Linked DNA regions of Homo sapiens: region 1 is linked to region 2. Evidence: fine-mapped expression QTL. Tissue or cell type: monocytes after R848. Region 2 holds a variant in brackets; the other region holds the start of a gene. All regions are shown on one strand. Distances are between the middles of the regions.

The links. PIP is the estimated chance that this variant, and not a neighbour inherited with it, causes the effect.
Region 1: it holds the start of XKR8, and the variant in region 2 is the best candidate, but not a certain one, in a credible set for the expression of XKR8 in monocytes after R848 (Quach 2016, PIP 0.68).

What each region holds. Positions count from the first base shown.
Region 1 is chr1:27,957,928-27,962,311 of GRCh38, reverse strand. XKR8 (XK related 8) reads right to left here and starts at 2,339. Exons shown (of 3, transcript NM_018053.4): 1 at 1,950-2,339. The coding sequence starts at 2,242. It overlaps SMPDL3B (sphingomyelin phosphodiesterase acid like 3B), which reads right to left. Exons shown (of 8, transcript NM_014474.4): 8 at 3,160-3,836. The coding sequence ends at 3,474. RefSeq lists an enhancer at 1,835-2,398 and a silencer at 2,079-2,468.
Region 2 is chr1:28,097,070-28,101,453 of GRCh38, reverse strand. No RefSeq gene overlaps it. Among named protein-coding and RNA genes, the nearest start is that of EYA3, 11 kb to the right of the region's middle. The variant C/T (reference allele first, on the strand shown) is at 2,409.

The sequences.
Region 1 (4,384 bases), 140 kb after region 2:
ATGAGCCACCAAGCCTGACCAGACCCTACCTCTTTTTAAAAAACAAACAAAAAATTATAAGCAGCTAATAAGTACTGGAATGAGGATTTGGATCCAAACCTGAATTGGAAAGGCATGCTATAAAGTTGCCTGAGGCAGTAGTTCTCAAACTTTAGTGTGCCCAAGATCTCCTGGGGTCCTGTGGGCAAGAGGACATTTGCCTCTTGGGCACTTCTGGGCACAGGCCAGATGGAATCAGACTCTGCCTTGCCCCGGCCACACAGGGGAGGGGCTGGAGGAGGGTTAGATTGGAAGGAGGGATCCCATTTAAGAGGCTGGCCCTGAGTGGTTAAGGATGGAGATTGGGGCGGAGTTAAGAGAGTCCAGAGTTTGGACAGACAGGTCTGGGGTACCCACTGGCATGAAGAGTAAGTGGAGGATGCACCAAGGACCCTCCACCCAGAACTTTGCTCTCAGTTGCCTATTGGGAGAGAACCCCGTTCACTCATCACAAGCTCATTCACCAGACATGTACTGTCACTTCCCCTGGAAGGACACAAGAACACACTGAGGAGCAGGCAGGCAGGACAGGCTGGGGTTCTCCCTCAGCAGGAGCCTTTGCCTATGGTCCCCAGTGACCTAGCAGGGACCCCTGCCTCGGCCAATTCACAGGCAGGAACAGAGACCCATTTCCAAAGCCAAAGCTAGTACAGTCTGTCTGACTCAAGCTCAGCAGAAATATTGGCCACAAAGATGCATAAGGTAGTTACAGATTCACGGCTCATGGAGGCCTGCCCAGGACTTAACAACTGCACCCCTTCATGCCCACCCGGGGTTTTCTGATGTCTCTATAATCCCTCAGGCAAAACTGCCACATTCAAAGCTCCTCTCTTCCACTCCTGGAGACTCCGTGTGGCTTTGTCAAGGCCAGATCTCAAGAGTTTGTAAAAACGGATTCAAGAGCAGATCCTGGCCCTGGCCACCCCATCCCAACCCACACCACCCTCTGCCCTGACTTTGTCGCATGCCTCTGAGCCTTGGGTTTGTTTTCCCATCTCTACGAGGCTCCACCAGGTCCAAAAAGGAGCAGAATCCACACACATTTTCCAGGACCCAGCCTATGCCCAGCCCTGGCTGGCTCCATGGGCATGGATGAGTCAGAGGCCATCTCTGCCCTCTTGCTGGGTCTGGGGTGGGAAGCCAAGTTTCAGGGGGAAGAATACAACCAGGCAGACAGGGTGAGAGGCGGCCTTTGTGAGGGGCAAGCGCTGTGGTGGGGTCAGGGCTGCTGAAACTCCCAGGGAGGCCCAGGTCAAGAAGCCAGCTGAGGTTGCTGAGTGCTCACTCTGAGCCAGGGCAGTGGACAGATGTCATTTCACTGCATCTTCACCAAACGGGCAGGCGCTATCCCCATCCCAATGGGAACAGCAACCAAACAGCCCCACTGAGAGGTCAGTGACTTCCCAAGGCCCTGCCCATGCTGAAACATGGGATGCTGAACTGAGTCCGCAGCCCCTGCCATTACAGGCCAGGCACTGTGCGAGGCACTTTCTCATTCTTTCGCTCACTCTTCACAACAGGCCTGCCCGTCACACCTGTCTCAGGGTGACTACCTCCTTTCTACGCAGGAGGAAACTGAGGCTCAGAGAAATGCAGAAGTGAGGCGAGAGGGGGCAAAGCCAGAAGTGGATCCCTGAGAGGTCCGACTTCAAAGCCCATGCGCCTCCCTTTCTTCCCTGGGCCTCAGTTTCTTCGCCTGTGCCAGGAAAGCTAGGGCTAGAATGAAGGCAGTCTACCGGGATTCCCTTTCCGTAAAGGGCTGCACGCTCACCTGTAGGCCAGGCGCCCACAGGACTTGGTTCCCTCTCCCAGTCCCCTTCCCGGCATATGGCGTGTCACCTGTACAGGTGACCCAGCTGACGGAGGTGCTGGGCTCCGACACTCCTCCCCTCCCGGGGCGAAGCACTCACCTGTACAGGTAACCCAGCTGCAGGAGATGCAGCAGCGCCAGGCAGCGGCGCGGGGGCTGCGACCCGTGCAGGCCGGCAGGGTCAGCGCGCAGCCAGAGCCAGCTGAAGAGCTGCAGCGCCACGGAGGCCAGGCCCAGCAGCGCCAGCACCAGCGCCGCCCACAGGTAGCGGCCGCCGAGCGCATACTGGACGGCGGCCCACAGGTCGGTGCCCAGGTCGAGCAGGAAGGCGGCGGTGCCCAGCACGCCCAGGACCAGGTCCCGAAGGAGGGCGCCGCGGGACGACCAGGGCATGGCCCGCCGGCCTCCGCCCTCTCCTGCTCCTCCGCGGTTGGGGCCTGCCCTCAGGGCCCGGGGTTGCCGAGGCAGGAAGGAGGTGGGCGCAGCCCTCGGGGCGGCCCGGGGCCTGGGCCTGGTGGGCGGGACTTCCCCGTCCCGCCCCGTCCGGGGAGGAGCGAGGCCCGCGGTTGTCCCAGGTCCTCCGCCCGAACCCCAGCTAAAAGCCGCTCGATGCTCTGCTCCCGCCGCCAGCCCAGGGGTCCACCGACCCAGCCCAGCCAAGCCCGCTAGGCCTGAAGACCGACTGCCCTTCGCTTCGCAGGCTTCAAATGGCCTAGTTTTACCTTTGAGGCGCCCGGAGGCCCAAGAAAGCGAGAGGGCGGGGAGACTAGAGCCTGGACCAGGGCTGCGATCCCTCACACCTGTATTGTTGCAAAACAAAACGAAACGCAAAGGCACATTCTAATCCCTAAGTGCGAGACTTTGCAACAACGCGTGCGCCTCGATCCAGGGATACCCGGAGAGCACGGGGCCGCTGGGTTCACGCCAGCGATCCGAGTCGGGGGAGGGCGGGCGTTAGGTTCCTGCAAATGAGTTAACCTCATTTCCATACGGAAGGGAATAGAGGCCGGGCGCGGTGACTCACGCCTGTAATCCCAACACTTTGGGAGGCCCAGGCGGGCGGATCACCTGAGGTCAGGAGTTCGAGACCAGCCTGGCAAACATGGCGAAACCCCGTCTCTACTAAAAATACAAATTAGTCGGGCGTGTTGGCGCGCGCCTGTAGTCCCAGCTAGGAGGCTGAGGCAGGAGAATCGCTTGAACCCGGGAGGCAGAGGTTGCAGAGAGCCGAGATAGCGCCACTGCACTCCGGCCTGGGCGACAGAGCGAGACTCCGTCTCAAAAGAAAAGAAAAGGAACACAACACAGAATCAAACGCATGATGAGCTTTGTTTTGTGAGTTAAACATAATACGCAAAAGAAGTATGCTTGTAGGGGGGTCTTGGGTCGTCATTTCTTTTCTGTTTCTGGTTTGTTTTTGGAGAGAGTCTGGCTTTGTCACCCAGGCTGGAGTGCAGTGGCGCGATCACGGATGGCTGCAGCTCCTGGGGCTTCGCTTCCTGATTCGGTTGTCCTATTTCAGTTCACTCCTCAGGCGCGGAGGAAATGGTGGAAGGCCCAGCTCTGGGTGATCCTGGGCGCTGCCCCCGTTACCCGTTACCAGGAAGAAGGTGAGCCTGGCAGGTCACAGCACGAGCGTGCACAGGCCCAGCAGGGCCATCAGCAGCAGCGGGAGCTGGGGCACGGGCGTGGTGCCAGAGGCATACAGACAGGTGGTGTAAGCGTCAATGTCCACCTGGCGCATGGCACACACGTGCTGCATGCTGCAGGCCTCGTCGCAGACCCCAGCAGAGTAGCTGACTGAGTTATAGACGTAGTAGCGCTGCAGTGTGCTCTGGTCGCCAGCGATGCGGTCCAGCACTGTGTGCATGGAGTGGGCGCTGGCGTCCGGCACCCCATAGGCCTCGGTCAGCTGGTACTCGAGCTCCCAGCGCGGCGTCCCCTGAGCATTCGCCTGGCTCAGGTTCATGAAGTAGGTCACCATGTCCTGGAAAAAGGGTTTGGGGTAGACCGGCTGTGAGCAGTTGTCTGCTTCCATCCCCATCCTGCACCTTGCATTTGCCCCCAAGTTCTTTAGAGCAGTGACCATGACCACTAGTAGTTATTGAGCACTTAGCTGTGCACCCATTGTGCTTGGCAGACATCCTCTGAATCGAATGAGGTAACTGCGCTTATTACCTAGGTTTCACAAATGAGGAAACTGAGGCCTAAAGAGGTTAATTCACTTGGCCAGGGTCATACAGGTATTCATACAGGTATTCAGTGGTAGCAGGATTGGACCCCAGGTTTACCCCAGGTCCCACCATGCTAGGGTACACATAGAAGACGCTCAGTAAATATTTACATAATGAATAGATAAAAGCAACATAAAAAGAGCAACACTAAGCATGAGAGAGATTATGAACTGTAGACTCCTAGGACCCAGGTGCATGTTCACGGCTAGACTCTGCAGGGTTCATCAGTCCAGCGGGTTCCAGGTACATTTATGAACCTGCTTCAGGCCACTGCAGACGGGGTAAGAGGAGCTGCCCGTAT
Region 2 (4,384 bases):
GCCAGGCTGGTCTTGAACTCCTGGCCTCAAGAAATCCACCCATCTTGGCCTCCCAAAGAGTTGGATTACAGACATGAGCCACCATGTCCGGCCCATAGCAGCTTTTATAAGTCCATTGTTTTCTGATTTTTAATCACTTACATATGTATGTATCTGTCATAATTCTAAACACTTTACATGTATTTGTTATTTAACTCTATGAGATAAAGGCTTTTCTTTTTTTGGTGCATTTAAATTTTATTTGAAATTTTATTTTTATTCATTTATTTTTGAGCAGAGTTTTGCTCTGTCGCCTAGGCTGGAGTGCAGTGGAGCGATCTCAGTTCACTGCAACCTCTGCCTCCTGGGTTCAAGAGATTCTTCTGCCTCAGCCTCCCGAGTAGGTGGGATTACAGGCATGTACCACCACACCCAGCTAATTTTTGTATTTTTAGTAGAGACGGGGTTTCACTGTGTTGGCCAGGCTGGTCTAGCCAACACACCTTATGTAATCCACTTGCCTTGGCCTCCCAAAGTGTTGGGATTACAGGCGTGAGCCACTGCACACAGCCAGTGCTGTTTTAAATCTCCATTTTACATGTATGAAAACTGAGGCACTGGCCGGGCACTGTGGCTCATGCCTATAATCCCAGCACTTTGGGAGGCCGAGGCGGGCAGATCACCTGAGGTTGGGAGTCCGAGACCAGCCTGACCAACATGGGAAACCCCGTCCCTTCTAAAAATACAAAATTAGCTGGGTGTGGTGCCACATGCCTGTAATCCCAGCTACTCGGGAGGCTGAGACAGGAGAATTGCTTGAACCCGGGAGGCGGAGGTTGCGGTGAGCGGTGAGCCAAGATCATGCCATTGCACTCCAGCCTGGGCAACAAGAGTGAAACTCAGTCTCAAAAAAAAAAAAAAAAAAAGAAAGAAATACTGAAAACTGAGGCACTGAGCAATACTTGACCTGTCCAAGTGCGCACAACTGTAAGTGGGAGAGTCAGGATTCAAACACAATCTGTTTCCAGAGCCCTTGAAAGTCTATACATTCTTACTATGGGGGAAGAAAAAGAAAGAAAGAAAAAAAAAAGTGAAGTTGACAGAATATATGACATGGTCCCTTCTATCCACAAGAAACATCTATTATTAACAGTTTTTTTTTGGTTGTTGTTGTTCTTGTTTTTTGTTTTTTTGAGACAGAGCCTTGCTGTGTTGCCCAGGTTGGAGTGCAATGGTGTGATCTTGGCTCACTGCAACCTCTGCTTCCTGGGTTCAAGCAATTCACCTGCCTCAGCCTCCTGAGTAGCTGAGATTACAGGCATGCGCCACCATGGCTGGTTGGTTTTTGTATTTTTAGTAGAGATTGGGTTTCACCATGTTGGCCAGGTGGGTCTTGAACTCCTGACCTCAGGTGATTCACCCACCTCAGCCTCCCAAAGTGCTGGGATAACAGGTGTGAACCACCATGCCTGGCCAACAGTTTATGTTTTAACTTTAAATCTAATTATAGAGTACAAATACACAGATAATGGCATTCTTGGGGGAAGGTATAACCATAATTTTTTTTTTTTGAGATGGAGTCTCGCTCTGTTGCCCAGGCTGGAGTGCAGTGGCACGATCCTGCTCACTGCAACCTCCGCCTCCTGGGTTCAAGTGATTCTTTTGCCTCAGCCTCCCAAGTAGAGTAGCTGGGACTACAGGCGTGTGCCACAATGCCTGGCTAGGTTTTGTAATTTTAGTAGAGACAGGGTTTCACCATGTTGGCCAGGCTGGTCTCAAACTCCTGACCTCAAGTGATCCACCCACCTTGGCCTCCCAAAGTGCTGGGATTACAGGCATTAGCCATGGCACCCGGCCAGTATAGCCATGATTAAAAGCAAATATGAATCCATCATCTGGTTGGCAGGAAACTTCCAGGCAACCTAAGTTTGACACAGCTCACTCTGGAATTGGACAGGGATACAGGCCCCTGCTAACCCAACTAACTCAGCTTAGTTATGGGCAGCTGACAACTGCTCCGCACAGCAGCGGCCACCTGAACAGGAGGGGAACCAAGAGTAGGAACGGGAGGCAAGAGTGGGTCAGTCTAGTGCTCAACAGGGCAAAGGCAGGGGCAGAAACCAGGTATCCCAGATGAGTCAGCCAGAAAAGATAATCCAGCACCAGCAGGGCAAAGGGCTGGTCTGTGGGTCTTGTGTTGGCCATGAGGACAATTCACAGTTATGTGGAGTCCCAAGGCTGTGCCAAAACAGCTGTTACTGGTCATGTGCAAGAAGATACTGTCTCAAGTGTTTTAATCAAAATAGAAAGGCATCCTGGTAGGAGGGTGTTGAACATGGCATGGGTATAGCCGTGTGTGGGAATCAGGCATCCAGAAATGGCCAAAGTGGAGCCACTGCAAATAGTACAAGAATGAATATACACAATGA[C/T]TTAGGTCAGCAGTTCTCAAATGTTTTGATATCAGGATCCCTTAATGCTGTTAAAAATTACTTGTGACCCTGATGGCTGGATGTGGTGGCTCACGCCTGTAATCCCAGCACTTTGGGAGGCCGAGGTGGGTGGATCACCTGAGGTCATGAGTTTGAGACCAGCCTGGCCAATACGGTGAAACCCCATCTCTACTAAAAAAAACCAAAAAACAATAAACAAAAAATTAGCTGGATGCGGTGGCATGTGCCTGTAATCCCAGCTACTCAGGAGGCTGAGGCATGAGAATTGCTTGAACCCAGGAGGCAGAGGTTGCAGTGAGCTGAGATCGCACCATTGCACTCCAGCCTGGGCAACAGAAGGAGACTCCGTCTCAAAAAAAAAAAAAAAAAAAAAAATTACTGGTGACCCCAAAGAGCTTTTGTTTATATGATTACAGCTATTTATATTTTCTCCTTTAGAGATTAAAATTGAGGAATTTTGAAAATGCAAGAATATACCAGCACACATTCCATTAGCCATTAGCAATGAATTAGCACATAGCCCCTGGAAAATTCCACCACACTTTTGAAAGAATGAGAGTGAAAAAGGCAAATAATGAGTTAGTGTCATTTTTAAAGTAGTTTTGATTTCACTTACTCCCTGTTACTGTCTTGGAGGTCTCCAGGAGGTCCCCAGACCATACTTTGAGAACTACTGGTCTAAATAATATATAGTAGGCTGGGCGCCACCTAGCACTTTGGGAGGCCGAGGCGGGCGGATCACATGAGGTCAGGAGTTCAAGACCAGCCTGGCCAAGATGGTGAAACCCCATCTCTACTAAAAATACAAAAATTAGCAGGGCATGGTGGTGCATGCCTGTAGTCCCAGGTACTCAGGAGGCTGAGGCAGGAGAATCGCTTGAACCTGGGAGGTGGAGGTTGCAGTGAACCGAGATTGCACCACTGCACTCTAGCCTGGGAAACAGAGTGGGACTGTCAAAAAAAAAAAAAAGAAAGAAGAAGAAGAAGGAGAAGGAGAAGGAGAAGAAGAAGAAGACTGGGTAAGTACTGTTTTTGCAAGCCATCATTGCTGCTAGTAACTTTCATTCATTCATTTTTTTCTTTTTTTTTTTTTTTGAAGACAGAGTCTCACTCTGTTATCCAGGCCGGAGTGCCGTGGCGCTATCTTGGCTCACTGCAACCTCCACCTCCCAGGTTCAAGTGATTCTTGTGCCTCAGCCATCCGGGTAATTAGGATTACAGGCGCTTGCCACCACGCCTGGCTAATTTTTGTATTTTTAGCAGATACAGGGTTTTGCCATGTTGCCCAGGCTGGTGTTGAACTCCTGGCCTCAAGAGATCCACCCAAAGTGCTCGGATTCCAGTTGTGAGACACTGCACCCGGCCTATTGCTGCTACTACCTTTCAAGACTCAGAGAGACTAGAAACTGAAATTCTGGGCTGGGTTTGGTGGCTCACACCTGGAATCCCAGCACTTTGGGAGGCTGAGGTGGGTGGATCACTTGAGGTCAGGAGTTTGAGACCAGCCTGGCCAACATGGTGAAACCCCATCTCTACTAAAAATATAAAAATTAGCCGGGTGTGGTGGCAGGTGCCTGTAATCCCAGTTACTTGAGAGGCTGAGGCAGGAGAATCACTTAAACCTGGGAGGTGGAGGTTGCAGTGAGCTGAGATCGTGTCATTACACTCCAGCCTGGGACACAAGAGTGAAACTCCTTCTCAAAACAAAACAAAACAAAACAAAACAAACTGATATTCTGCCTCAGAAAAACCCCATGTCTCCGGCAATGATCATATTGGCCAACAGAAACAGCCAACTGCAGGAAAATGGCTTCTTCCTCATTTCTACCTTACAAATCTTACCTAAGTATATCTAATGGACCATATCTAGTTCTCACCCAGAATCCTACGTGGATGGAAGCCTGTGAAATGCCATTTATAAACTTCCACCTCTGCAGTATGGGAAGGTTCACTAG